2 linked regions of the Homo sapiens genome follow. The protein of the gene in region 1 interacts with the protein of each later gene in a biochemical or structural test. Each region holds a gene or a part of one and is shown on either strand. Other genes may lie near its edges.

Evidence for each region. Proteins that work in one complex are often made in the same cells at the same time.
Region 2: the proteins of ZHX1 (region 1) and NFYA form a complex in vitro, tested with the Homo sapiens proteins (2 studies listed by BioGRID).

Annotation. Positions count from the first base shown.
Region 1 is NC_000008.11:123,264,256-123,271,287, reverse strand, and holds part of ZHX1 (zinc fingers and homeoboxes protein 1), read left to right. Parts: intron 1-3,901; 5' UTR 3,902-3,994; coding exon of another isoform or gene 3,995-4,015; intron 4,016-4,542; exon of another isoform or gene 4,543-4,646; intron 4,647-7,032. Other genes in the region: ZHX1-C8orf76 (zinc fingers and homeoboxes protein 1), read left to right, coding at 3,995-4,015. UniProt on the Homo sapiens protein: Acts as a transcriptional repressor. Increases DNMT3B-mediated repressive transcriptional activity when DNMT3B is tethered to DNA. May link molecule between DNMT3B and other co-repressor proteins.
Region 2 is NC_000006.12:41,096,960-41,102,921, forward strand, and holds the end of NFYA (nuclear transcription factor Y subunit alpha), read left to right. Parts: intron 1-397; coding exon 398-451; 3' UTR 452-5,444; downstream 5,445-5,962. UniProt on the Homo sapiens protein: Component of the sequence-specific heterotrimeric transcription factor (NF-Y) which specifically recognizes a 5'-CCAAT-3' box motif found in the promoters of its target genes.

The sequences.
Region 1 (7,032 bases):
CTAAATTTTTTGAACTTAAAATCCTTTTAAATAATCCTACGTAGTTTCAAAAGTAAGTTATAGTTCTGTTTTTAAAACTGATACTATCTTTAGAATAAGAGCCAATGTTTCTATACTATTATTGATAAATTTTATTGTATCCTTGTTGCTCTGATATATTTGTAGTCATCAATAACCAGATTTGCATGACTAAAGTTGCTGACTTAGATTATTAATCAGAATATACATTTGAGTTTACATTTTGGAGATCTGCATTTTATACAGGATATTCTTAAAGTAAATATTAATATGTAACTTTGTATGTAGTTGCCAGGTTTTGATCTTAAAAGATACTTAATCTTGGCATTTTATACAATCAGTTTCCAACTTAAGAGGTAAGACTGTATACCTTTGGTCTAAACAAATGTGATGATATACTTTGTAAAATAAGTATATATGAGCAGTTTAAGAATTATGTTTATTCAAGGGAGCCAGTTGAATACATTTTTTTTTTTTTTTTTTTGAGACGGGGTCTCATTCTGTGGCCCAGGCTGGAGTGCAGTGGCATGATCATGGCTCACTGCACCCTCAAACTCCTGTGCTCAAGCGATCCTTTCTCCTCAGCCTCTTGAGTAGCTAGGACTACAGTCATGTGTCACCCACGCCCGGCTAATTTTTAATTTTTTTTTTTGTAGAGATAGGGTCTTACTGTGTTGCCCTAGCTGGTCTCAAACTCCTGGCCTCAAGCAATCCTTCTGCCTTGGCCTCCCAACATGCTGGGATTACAGGTGTGAGCCACTGCACTCAGCCAAATAAATCATTTTTAATGCAAGATTTTAATTTTCAGTTCTTAGTTTTAGATTTTAAAAAATATTATCAGAATTTATCTTAACAAAATTAAAATATCGAAGTCATAGCCATATCATATATTATTGTAAATAAAATAACTCTTTCATTAAATTTTGGTGATTTCCTATTTCTCAAGATTTCTAACTTCCTTTTTCCCCTTCTTAAAAGTCTTTTCCTTTTTTGTTTTTTAGTGAGAAATGAAAGAAGATAGGAGGTTCTGATATTTCTAAGCACTAAACTAATAATTATATTTTTCTTCTAAGTTTATTCTCTTTTACCATCAATATTCTTAAAAAGAAGTTTGTTAAAATTTTGCTAGACATGGGCTATACTTGGGAGTGGGGAAGATCATGAGAACAATTTCTCCTCGTTACTATGATAAAATTACTTATATCAGATGTTTGCTAGTTCTATGAAATACCCCTTAAATATGTCATACAGTAATGATTTATTTTGAAGCTAAGGTCAGAAAAAGTTTGTGGGGGGAGAGGTTAAATTTGATTGATTAGTATCTGCCTTTTGAAGCCAACTTGTTCCAGCATGATTTAATATGCTCAGAGGTATGAAATGGCAAATAAATTTTGTTGGTTGGTTGTTACCCAGATTCTTAAAGTATTTTATCACTTGTCAACAGTTAGCAAATTTTAAAGAAAGATTTCTTTGCTAACATTCATTGTGTTCTAAGTACCAAGGAATATTCCAGAAACTTTACACGTGTTACCTATTCCAATCCTCACAACAACCCTATTAAGTAAATAGTATCCTATTAATATTACCAGTCCCATTTATAGATGATGGGGCTGAGGCACAGATAGGCTAAGCCATTTTTCTAAAGTCACACAGCTAGTAAGTGGCATGCTGTATTTGAACCCAGTCTGTTCCAAATTCCAAGCTCTCAGTCTTTTTTTGTAATCCATCTACTACCAGAACAGCTTGTTCTGTTTTATTATATAATGTACATAGCTGAGATGAGCTCTTTAATTTTTGGAATTCACTCATACTAAATTAAGAAAAATACTTTGAATTAGATAGAAATGTTCTAAAGTAATCCCAGTATCAGGAACTTAAATAACATCAGGCAACTAGGATTTTCATTCAAAAGCACTGATGAGCTCATTTTTGCTCCTCTGGTATCCTGGTGCCTTTACATGTCTTGGCAGCTCTTCTCAAGAGACTCATTCGGTAAAATATCTTGCAATTACTGTGTGATTTTAAGAATGGATTGAAGTAGGTTACCAGATTCCTAAAGTATTAATAATTCATTTTGGAAAATAACCTTCCCTCTTTGGCAGCTGTTTCCTATCTTCTCTTCTAGTCCACATCCTGTAGATTGATGGCTAACGAGTGGCGGAACAAGGAGATACCAGGAAATGAAACTGTAGAGTCCCAGGCTACAGAGATAATAAGATGCTCCACTGGGCCTACCAGGAAAATGCTCTTTTGCTTTTCATGAAAATAGTGTACTTATTCAGCCTAAGTTTTAACCTAACCTAGAGGTATTTTACTAAAGGACTGGTGTATTTACATTATTTCTTGATGTGAGAAGTTTCTTCATAAACTTGTATGTAATAGTAGCAGGAATAAAAAAATAAGGTTAATTGGGAAAATACTCTTCCTTAATATTTATTCATTATAGTTTACAGAGAATAGTGCTTAAAGAATACAACAAAAGGCCGGTTAGGGATCATGCCTGTAATCCCAGCACTTTGGGAGGCCAAGGCGGGCAGATCACTTGAGCTCAGGAGATAGAGACCATCCTGGCCAACATGGTGAAACCCTGTCTCTACTAAAAATACAAAAATTAGTTGGGTGTGGTGGCGTGTGCCTGTAATCCCAGCTACTCGGGAGGCTGAGGCAGGAGAATCGCTTGAACCAGGGAGTCGGAGATTGCAGTGATTCGATATTGCGCCACTGCACTCCAGCTGGGCGACACAGTGAGACTCCATCTCAAAAAAAAAAGAATACAACCAAAATGCTTTAACCCTTCAAAAGTGTTATTTATGACTGTTCTAGTAAGAAAAGCAATTGTAGCTTTATTAAACTTTTCTGATGGGTTTAACTGATCTAGATTATATACAACAACATATTTGGACAGTAATTGAATTTTCAGAGAATTATTTTCTGTTTATTTGATTGCATGATGTTAATACTTCACAGTGCACTGATTGTAAAGCCATTTGGTAGTAGCTTTCAGGCAAAAACGACATGGCTAAACACCAGTCATTTTGTTAGATAACCCCATGTTTGTAGATCAAGTACTACTAGTTTGTTTAACTTGTTTTGGCTTGTGTTGTCAGCATTAATAATCCTCTCCATTCTGATTAACATAATAAATTAGGATACAAATATCACTAGGTTTATGTACTAACACATAAACATATACAACTACTCCCATTTCTTAGTTTAACTAAATTGTCTTCATAACCTTTGTATACTTATTTATTTATTTATTTATTTAGAGTCAGAGTTTCGCTCTTGTTGCCCAGACTGGGGTGCAATGGCGCAATCTCGGCTCACTGCAACCTCTGCCTCCCCGGTTCAAGCGATTCTCCTGCCTCAGCTTCCCGAGTAGCTGGGATTACAGGCATGCGCCACCACGCCCAGCTAATTTTGTATTTTTAGTAGAGACGGGGTTTCTCCTTGTTGGTCAGACTGGTCTCAAACTCCCAACCTCAGGTGATCCGCCGGCCTTGGCCTCCCGAAGTGCTGGGATTACAGGTGTGAGCCACCGCGCCCGGCCGGTATACTCATTTTAAAGAACTCCCAATTTCTGCATCTCAATTTTCACACTAGAGACGGCATATATTCACGTTTTGAAATTTTATTCAAAATGGTCTAATAGTTATTTAGTTGTTCTATATGATATAAATAGAGTTTTTTTAATGTGTAGTTTTTGTGTTTACTACCAATATTAGGATTGGTATTTAAATGGTTCTTTTAAAGTTTTGATGAGGGAATAAACTTTTTTTTTCAAAATTACATTTATTTATTAAAAGCTAAGGCATTAAATTGTAAAAATTTCCTGACTAAGGCTAAATTATATCTAGAATAATAAAATATGACTTTTTTGTAGGAGAAGACAGACTGCTGCTTTGGACCTGTTGGTAATGATGGCCTGAGCTAAACATCTAACTAGAAGGGATACCCTTCCATTTCAAAGAACAGAATGCTAAGGAAGCTGTGGCAAGTATGTGTTTCATTGTTTTGGTATGGTAAAACTCAGATACTGAATGTACTCACTTTAGATCCCATGATACTATATTTGTCTAAAGTTTTTAAAAGCTTTCCTTAAAAAGCAGCAGACATATGCTTAACACTTTTTTTTAATATACTTTCAAATTTTAAGAGCTATAAGTATAGGACTGCTTTAATTTAAAAGGAGACGGCATCATACTTCATAATAAATCTTGTATATTTATAATTGATTTTAAAATTAGTATTTGATAAAATCTGCTGTGTCAGGCACTATACCAAGTGCTGTGATAACAGAGGTAAACAAGACAAAATGTACCTTTGGTATGGGGAAATTGATCTAGAAATTTTGCTATGCTTTTGCCTATATCCAGAAAAATGCTTCAGGATGTACAAGAACAAATTCTGAAACTGTATTTTCAAAACGTAGGCTACTAATAATAGTTAATTATAAGAGTCAGGATATTAATTAAATACTCTTACTTATATTAACCATACCAAAACTTAAATATTTGAATATTGATCCTTTTGTAGTTCTTAAGTGTGATGATTGGGTTTTCATGCTTATGTGTGAAATGTGCCTTTCTCAAACCTTGTTATGACACTGGCACATTACCTGTGTGACGTAAAAAATATATATATATTTGAATGTATTTGTACATAATTGTTTTTATATTTTATCTGATTAATTAATTGGCTTTTATAAGAAGCATTTGTCCTATTGTTATTTTAGATGATTCCAGAAAATACTAGGAAAGATTTGATAAACATTAATGTGGCAGTTTTCATTTTTAAAAAATGGATAACAGAGTTCTTATAAGTTGATATTACCAATACTGATTACTATTATCTTTCAAAGTATTTTGAAAAATCAAATCATTATATCCTCAGTGAAGTGGGTAACAGTTACCTTACCATTATAAATAGGGAAGATAATGACCAGATGAATGGTTTTTCAGTCTTCAAAGGTAATCTCACTTGGAACTGAGAATAGCATTCTTGTGTTAGACTGGCTGTAAAAGACTTAACACACCTTCTTGAGAAAAGTAGGGAAAAATTGTTTTCAGTAGAAAATGACTTTTCGATCACATTCACAAACTCTTCACAAGATAAGAGATTTCATGATACTGCTAGTTTATATATCACTTTCAATGTATTACGTACTTACCTACCTACCTGCCAGCTGTGGGGAGAAAACTAGGATGTTAGTGTCCTAGGGAGAGACCTTTCAAAAAGACATTTCACTCCCGCAAATCTGTGGTCAGAGCTTGCCAGAAAAAAATCTGTCCGATTTGGATTCTTCTTTTAATCTTTAGTGTCATTAAGGTCTGCTTTCTCAGATGGAAAAAAACAGATAGAGAGGATAGGGTTTCTTACCTTTCAGCCTTAATTAGCATTAGCAAAGGTATCCTCTGACATTTGATTATCTTTGACCACAATTTCTTAGATGCTTTCACTTTTATTATTTTTATTCCTGTTTGTATATTCACTTTAATACTTGATTTTCTATTGTCTTGAGACTATTTTTTACAGTTTTCTTGAGACTTATCTCTCAGGTCATGATTGTAGGTTACCAGCAATCTTTAAAAACATTTGCTGTGGATGTAAATTTGTGTTGTCAAATTCCTAATTTAATTTTTTAAGAACTTGATGTTTCTAAATGTTTTAACATTTTATTTTTATTTTTACATTTTAACTTTGAAAATACCTTAATTGTATAAAATCACCTTTATTTTTTTTAACACGGTGGATACCTTTTGTTTTAATATGACCTAATTCTTTGTTTGTACTGTTTAGGCATTCCGTGATTTTTGTGGATTTGTAACTTCTAGTTGAATACAAACGTGTTAAAGTATTTTCAGCTGGCTAAACAGAACTCTTGACTCAGAGAGAAGTGAAACTAAATAGAATACAGAGTCCCAAACATTCTCGGTATATATACAAATGCAGATTCCAAGGGATTCTCAGTGTGTATATTTTTGCTACCTAAGAACAGTTTTATTTTTGATGCTACATCAAAATTAACATGATCCCTAAAAACTATAGTATCTTCTAAATGCTCTTTTTTTTTTTTTTTTGAGACAGAGTTGTGCTCTTATCATCCAGGCTGGAGTGCAATGGCGCAATCTCGGCTTACTGCAACCTTCTTCTCCCAGGTTCAAGCGATTCTCCTGCCTCAACCTCCCGAGTAGCTGGAATTATAAGTGCACGCCACGACGCCGGGCTAATTTTTGTATTTTTAGTAGAGACAGGGTTTCACCATGTTGGCCAGGCTGGTCTCAAACTCCTGACCTCAGGTGATCCACCCGCCTCGGCCTCCCAAAGTGCTGGGATTACATGCGTGAGCCACCTCACTCAGCCCTAAATGCTCTTATTTGACCCAGAATTGTTGTAAAAAACAAAGTTTGTGGCCAGGCACAGTGGGTCATGCCTGTAATCCCAGCACTTTGGGAGGCCGAGGCGGGTGGATTATGATGTCAGGAGTTCAAGACCAGCCTGGACAAGATGGTGAAACCCCGTCTCTACTAAAAAAAATACAAAAATTAGCCAGGCGTGGTGGCGGGCGCCTGTAATCCCAACTACTTGGGAGGCTGAGGCAGAGAATTGCTTGAACCTGGGAGGCGGCGGTTGCAGTGAGCCGAGATTGCCCCAGTGCACTCCAGCCTGGGCAACAGAGTGGGACTCCGTCTCAAGAAAAAAAAGTTTGTTTTTATTCATGTAAAATCTTACCAAATAGCATGCTTTTGTGGCTAACCAGGCCAACATATTGTTATCTGTTAATCATTTAATTTGAAGTCCAAACAGCCAGAAAAACCAGAAGCTTGCAAATTCAGTGCAGTTGTGGCTCTGTTTAATTATAAAATATTTTAGACTTTTTTTTAGTAGTGGGTAAGCATAGAATTTGAAACAATCCACTAACTTCTTATAGTGTATTACATTGAGGACTTATTTTTAATCTTTTTTAAAATGTAGTAGAACACTGTTAAAGTATAGTTTTCTCATAAAACAGAG
Region 2 (5,962 bases), on another chromosome or scaffold:
CTCAGTATTTAAATGATGATCAAAAAACAGTGACAAAAATACAGCATGACATGGTTTCTCTGGGTCTTTTCCTTAGACACCTGAATCTGAATACTCTTAACCCTTAAGTATAGAGAACAACACAAGGTTCTTAGGAAAGAGATACACTAACAGCCCTGCAGTGTTTCACCATGGAGTGCAGGCCAGACTTTAAATTATTTTAAGAATAAGGTTTATTGTCTCTTCTTTCCTAATGGGGCTACACTTTAAGCCATGTATGCAGACTTAAGATGTATTACAAGCCTTTGATTTACTTGGTAAAGTTATGTGTATTCTCTTGGGGGGATAAGTAGTGAGAGCCATGAGTTCCTGTTGCTTTTGCAAAGGACTTTAATCATCATGTCATCTTTGTCTCTAGGATCCAAACCAAGCCGATGAAGAAGCAATGACACAGATCATCCGAGTGTCCTAACCCCACGCCATGTGATGGAGCTGATCAAGGTCATGTTTCTCACTGTTCCAGGAAATTGATCAACTCTTCCAATGGGACATTGATGATCACATTCTGCCCTTTACTACAGGACAGAAACCACTTAGTTTTTAATAAGTGGCTCAGTATTACAATTGCAGCGATGCCTGGCAAATTGAAGTTGCAAGCCTTTGTCTTACTCTTTCAGTCAGGACCTATTTCAGACTGTTGATGACATTGACATTTCATGGATTCGGATGATGCAAGGAGACACATGCCACCCCAGCAGTACACAAAGCACTTACCTTGACTGGTGAAGTCAGCCAGCCATCTCAGCAGGGAAGAACAACCTTCTCAACCAAAACTGCAATCAGGAAAGCAGCAGCCCACTCCTTCCCATGGAATCTAGACAGCATTTATCCCTCTGGTGGGGGAATCTCACACTGACTAACTGAATGGACGCTTTGTATTCAGAGATGGCTTCCAGGCAAGGAAGTTCTATCTTGTGATACGGAAACAATAAATTCCTGAGATACATTCTTCCAATCTGTGGTAATAATAAGAATTCCTCTCTGCCCAGATGGTAGGTTGATATTTCTGGACTCTAGCCAAGAAAAAGCTAATTCTGGGGATAGAATGATAAAAGACTCAAGCACTAAAAATATACATTGCCGAATCTCTTTTTCTAGCTTTGAAAAGTTGTGGCCTGCTTGTCCCTCTGTTGACTGGTCATCTGGACCATCGTACTTGCTGTGGCTACTTCTAAGACAATGTAGAGGGTTATTAAACCTTGAAACTGCCTTTCCTAAGTAGAGAACAAGACTATTCAACAACTTCTTTGCTGAAGCACTGAGGAGATTTGTAATACTCCTAAAGGAAGGGCCAAACTAGAGATTTTCAATCATAGACTTTGTGACAGCATTTGGGGAACTAAAAGATTCATGTGTTTCAGCCTAGTGGGAGAGAGTGGGGGAGAGGAAGAGAGAGAGAGAGCATGTATACCCGTATGTTATCATAGAGCACGATTCTCCAGTGGATGGATACCTGGAATGGATCATTAAGATGAAGAGAGTAATTCACATTTACTCTAGAACCTTTAACAAGCACTGAAAGGAAGAAGCCTGAGATTTGATCCTTGACAATTTCTGGAAAGCACTGGTCAGTCACACTGTCCTGGACAGAGTCCAAGTTACCCACTAAAGCTTGAGGTGGATGTTGGCTTCACTCCTGCAGCACAATGCTGGCCCTAGAAAGCGAGCATTTTCATTCTTCCCATGGCAGCTGATTCTTTGGTGCCAGTTTTCATGTTTTCTCCATAGGCCTTGTGCAGAAAGGTTTTCTCATTGCATCCATACTGTGAGAATAAACTGCAGACTGAAAGAAACATGCCTGCAGGGTCAGGAACTGGGCCACTGTTCCCAGAACGGGTTGTGCCTCAGAAATCTATTTCTCTTTTAGATGTTGAACCCTGAGAGAACTAAGATGATATTTCAGAAGAGTTGGCTGCCTTCTCTGGAAACAAGGAAAACCCAATAATTCCGAGGAACATTGGGGGTTAAATACCAAGAATAAAAATTGGTTCTTCTTTGACTTCAGCTTAACTGTATTAAGACAGAAATTAAGCCCTCTAAAAACACCACAAAGAGAGATGATTGTAATGATAGAAATAGAGGTACAGAGCTATGCAAAGGAAACAGGAAGTGAAATATTCCTAGTCCCAGGGATCTGGTAATCGCTCCTGGCTTCCAGATGTCAAAGGACTGATCCTTTGGTAAGCTCACTAGAAACTTCTAGCTCTACAAGAGTTTGGGATATTAATGTTATTCAGTAAGTCCCAAGTTTTTCAGAGAATAGATTACTAACAATGAGGAATTTATATTCCTTGGTTAATTTAGGAGTCTAAGATGCAGAGTTCAGAAAGAAATTACTCAGACCTAACTTTGAGTGCTTAAGCTGCCAACAGTTAGAAGATGCTATTTATTTGTGTCTGTAAGTTTGTACATAGTAATGCCAGCCTTGTTGCTGAATTTTTTATTTGGGGGGAGATGACTTTGAATTTTGTTTGAAATGCTTCAGTTGTCATTTTGTCATTGCATTTCAAATAGCTCATGACCCTTTTCTTGTGGTCACTTTGGCACACCATAGTAGCCCACAAAGTGGGGGCAGGGTATTGACATTTGGATTTTTTCTTTGATACTAGTTCTTTTATTCATTTTTATTTGTGACTGTAGTGATAACTTTACAGATGGAGAAAGAGTGAATGGATGAATGAATAATTGGTTTAATGCCTAGTTATGCAACTTGAGTGCTTTTTTTTTTTTTTGCAGGATAATTTTAAGTGTATATATTTTAACTGCACTGGTACATTGAACATGTCAGTGTCGATGCCACTGGACCAACAGAGCATTTTGTGGCTATAGGGTGCCTGATAATAATGTCTTGATTTTTCTTTGGGATTCAACTATATCGAAGGTTTTTCCCCCAGCAGTATGGGGGCGTACAGGTGATCGATCATTAATGTCATTGCAATTGTTATTTTTTAAAATAAATTTATAAAAATAACCGAAAAGTAATGTGACTTTTGAGGAATCTGCAACTCCTGGGTTCTAGTTTGTGTTTCCAGTGTTGAAATTTTGATCTCCCCCGACAAGACTTGTCTGCATGGACGGTGTCTCTGTAAACAGTATCAAACTTGTAATGTCTGAGCCTCTTAGCTTTATCTCCCCTTAATTTCTTCCCTTTTGGCCCTTCCACCCTGTTGAGGAGATTTTTTCTGTCACCTGCAGGCTGATCATACATTTGATGCTACTACTGAAAGTGTTTATCAAAATGTGATGAAGTAATTCCATGAGGAAAATTAGCCGTTATCACAAAAACAGCCTTAAGTATTGTAGAATTTCAGGTAGTGAAGATGTACTATTTACGTTTTGTTAGATTTTGTTTTGGCAGAAGACCAAAACAAAAGTACTTTTCTGATTGTTAAAAATCCACAGCATGCTCACCTTGTTACTGTTTTACCTTACGGTCGCTGGGAATCTAAGCAACAAAGACTAGAAGCCTCCGATATGCCATTATCAACACACAAGAGACAAACAGCCCGAGGAAGCACTCAATGATGAGAGCAGTAGACCTGCCCTGGCAGATGAGAGAGGAGAAACTCTCCACAATGAAGGAAAAGCACTGACAGTATTTGATAGCTTTAGTCAAACTGTGCTTGAGTTTGGCTTAGATTTATGCCAGTGGAACCTGTCCTTACCAAATTCAGAGATGACCCAAGATTCTACTCTGTGGTATGAGGGAAAGACCTCTCGATATTTATCTCACACCAACGGCTTTATCGTAGGAGCGTCTTCGCCTCCCCCGTTTCCAGTAGAAAAGACAGCTTTGCTCCTTTGAAAGCGCAGACCGCCGCACCTCCAGCCCCTTCTCCCCGGGGAAGTAGGCCCCGCTAAGAATGTGGGAAGGTGGTGGGGCGGCGACTGAAGTCGCTTCCGATTGGCGTTGTCCCAAGGAAGCCTGCGCGGATTGATCGGCGGCAGGCCTCCAATAGAGCCTGCTAGGCGGATTGGCTGCTACGCGGCTGGGCCCTGTTTCCGGTACCTAGGCGGGCAGCCATGGTGACCGGCGAGCGGCATGCGACGCCGCCTCTGTGGCCTGTGGAGGCCCGCTTGGCGGCGCTGCTTCCCGACCTACTGGTCTTTCGGAAGCCTCGGGGATGGGAACCCGAGCTCGCCACGGCCCAGGGCGTCCTCCTAGGCGTCCATGTGACGGGTGAGGGCGACGGCCGGCACTTGCACTTAAGTCTCCTGGCCTGCGGGAGAGGCGGCCGTTGGGTCTAAGCCCCTGGAGGCCTCGACGGTTACAGGCCTAGCCTCCCGCGAGCTAAGGCACAGTTTAACTTCGTGCTGCGGCTTCCTTAGGAAACTTTGAGTATCTTCGTTTTAGCGTGGGAGGACATCTTTTGGGATGAACCGGCTCAGTCCTTGAGCTCACCCCAAAGATGATGAAATTGAAACTCAGAGGAAAGGATTTTTACAGGACCACGCCCCGGGCTTTGAACCCGTTTTTCCCAACCCCGAGCATTTTCTATTAAGCGTTCTGTTTCAATTATTTTATTCGTTCAGTTAATTCGTTCTTGGCGTCATAAGTATATGCCCGCCGTTGTTCTGGCCGTAGCTATCTAGCAGCCACTCCGCGAGTCGTTCATTTAACAAATACTTACTCTGTGTCAGGGATATGAAGATGGGTAATACCAGGTGCCTGTCCTCACTGTGTGAGTGGTTCTCTAGCCAGACATGAGGAGGGATCCTATTGTTTCCCATAGCTAGGCAGCCTAAGAGAGTAGGGGAAAGAGCTGGCTCCAGATGAAAAGGGCACCATCTCCAGCTCTTGGAAGCAGAGAGGGTGGTCCTTTGGATTCCCAGTGGCAGCAGCAACCAACCTGGCCCTTAGTAGTTTCTAAGTTACACCATGTTAATGGATAAAGGAATTACTCAGCTTGAAGGGATCTGTTTCCTTTACACTGGCCTGATGTGTGGGGAGAAAGGGGCCAAAAAGTTTAGGATTTGGAGTTAACATCGTAATTTCTGCTTTGTTGGTCAGGGTTTACAGCATTAATGGACAGGTTCACCCTGACCTACAAGTCGGAACGTGACATGGACAAACTGGCCCATATCTTCAGTTATTACATTAGTGACATCGTGGAGCGTGAGTGATCATTGTAGGGTAACAAGGTGTGGTGCTGGGCTCCTGGGGGTTTATAAAAGAAGGGGGCCAGAAGTACTTTAAAACAGGTACCAAAGGGTCATTCCTTTAGCATCATTCATCTTTGGTTTCTTCAAGTTGCCACTGAAAAGCTAGACCTTTGCCTATTATCTGCTAATCTACCCAGTCTCACATTCTATTGACTCATTGTTCAAAGGGGGGGCAGGAGGAGCTAATTTCCTTTGCACATTTGTATTTTATTTCAAAATAAAGTATTCTCTTCTAACAATAACGTATCTCAAGTGTGTATTCAGACAAAATTTATAAAACATCTTTTTATTATTATATTTTGATCCTGTGAGGAAGGAATAGGTGTTTTCTTATTTTCTGCCATGTATTAAGCTTTTAGATATTTGCCAGATATCCAGTATCTGGAAAAAACTCATTTATGTAGTACCCATGTTTTGAGTACCTACCCTGTGACATGGACTGTAATAGGTGCAGGCAGGGCAAGAACCCACTCTTGAACTTTTTAGTTAGGCCTACCCAACAGAAATTACTCTGACCTTATACCTTTTAGTACTTACGTAACATTCTCATCCTTTACTGACAGTGCCCTGTATGCTTCCGTCCATCATTCTGAGATTCACCAGAATAATTACTTTGAGGCATCTCCGTTAAGAATTTGATTATTTGACTTACCTCTTATCCTTAAGGAACACATGGAAGGTCGTTTGCTTTTTCTTATAGGTTTGGATGAAGGGGAAGATAAACATTCTATATCGTGTATGTACTCTAATACCAGCAACT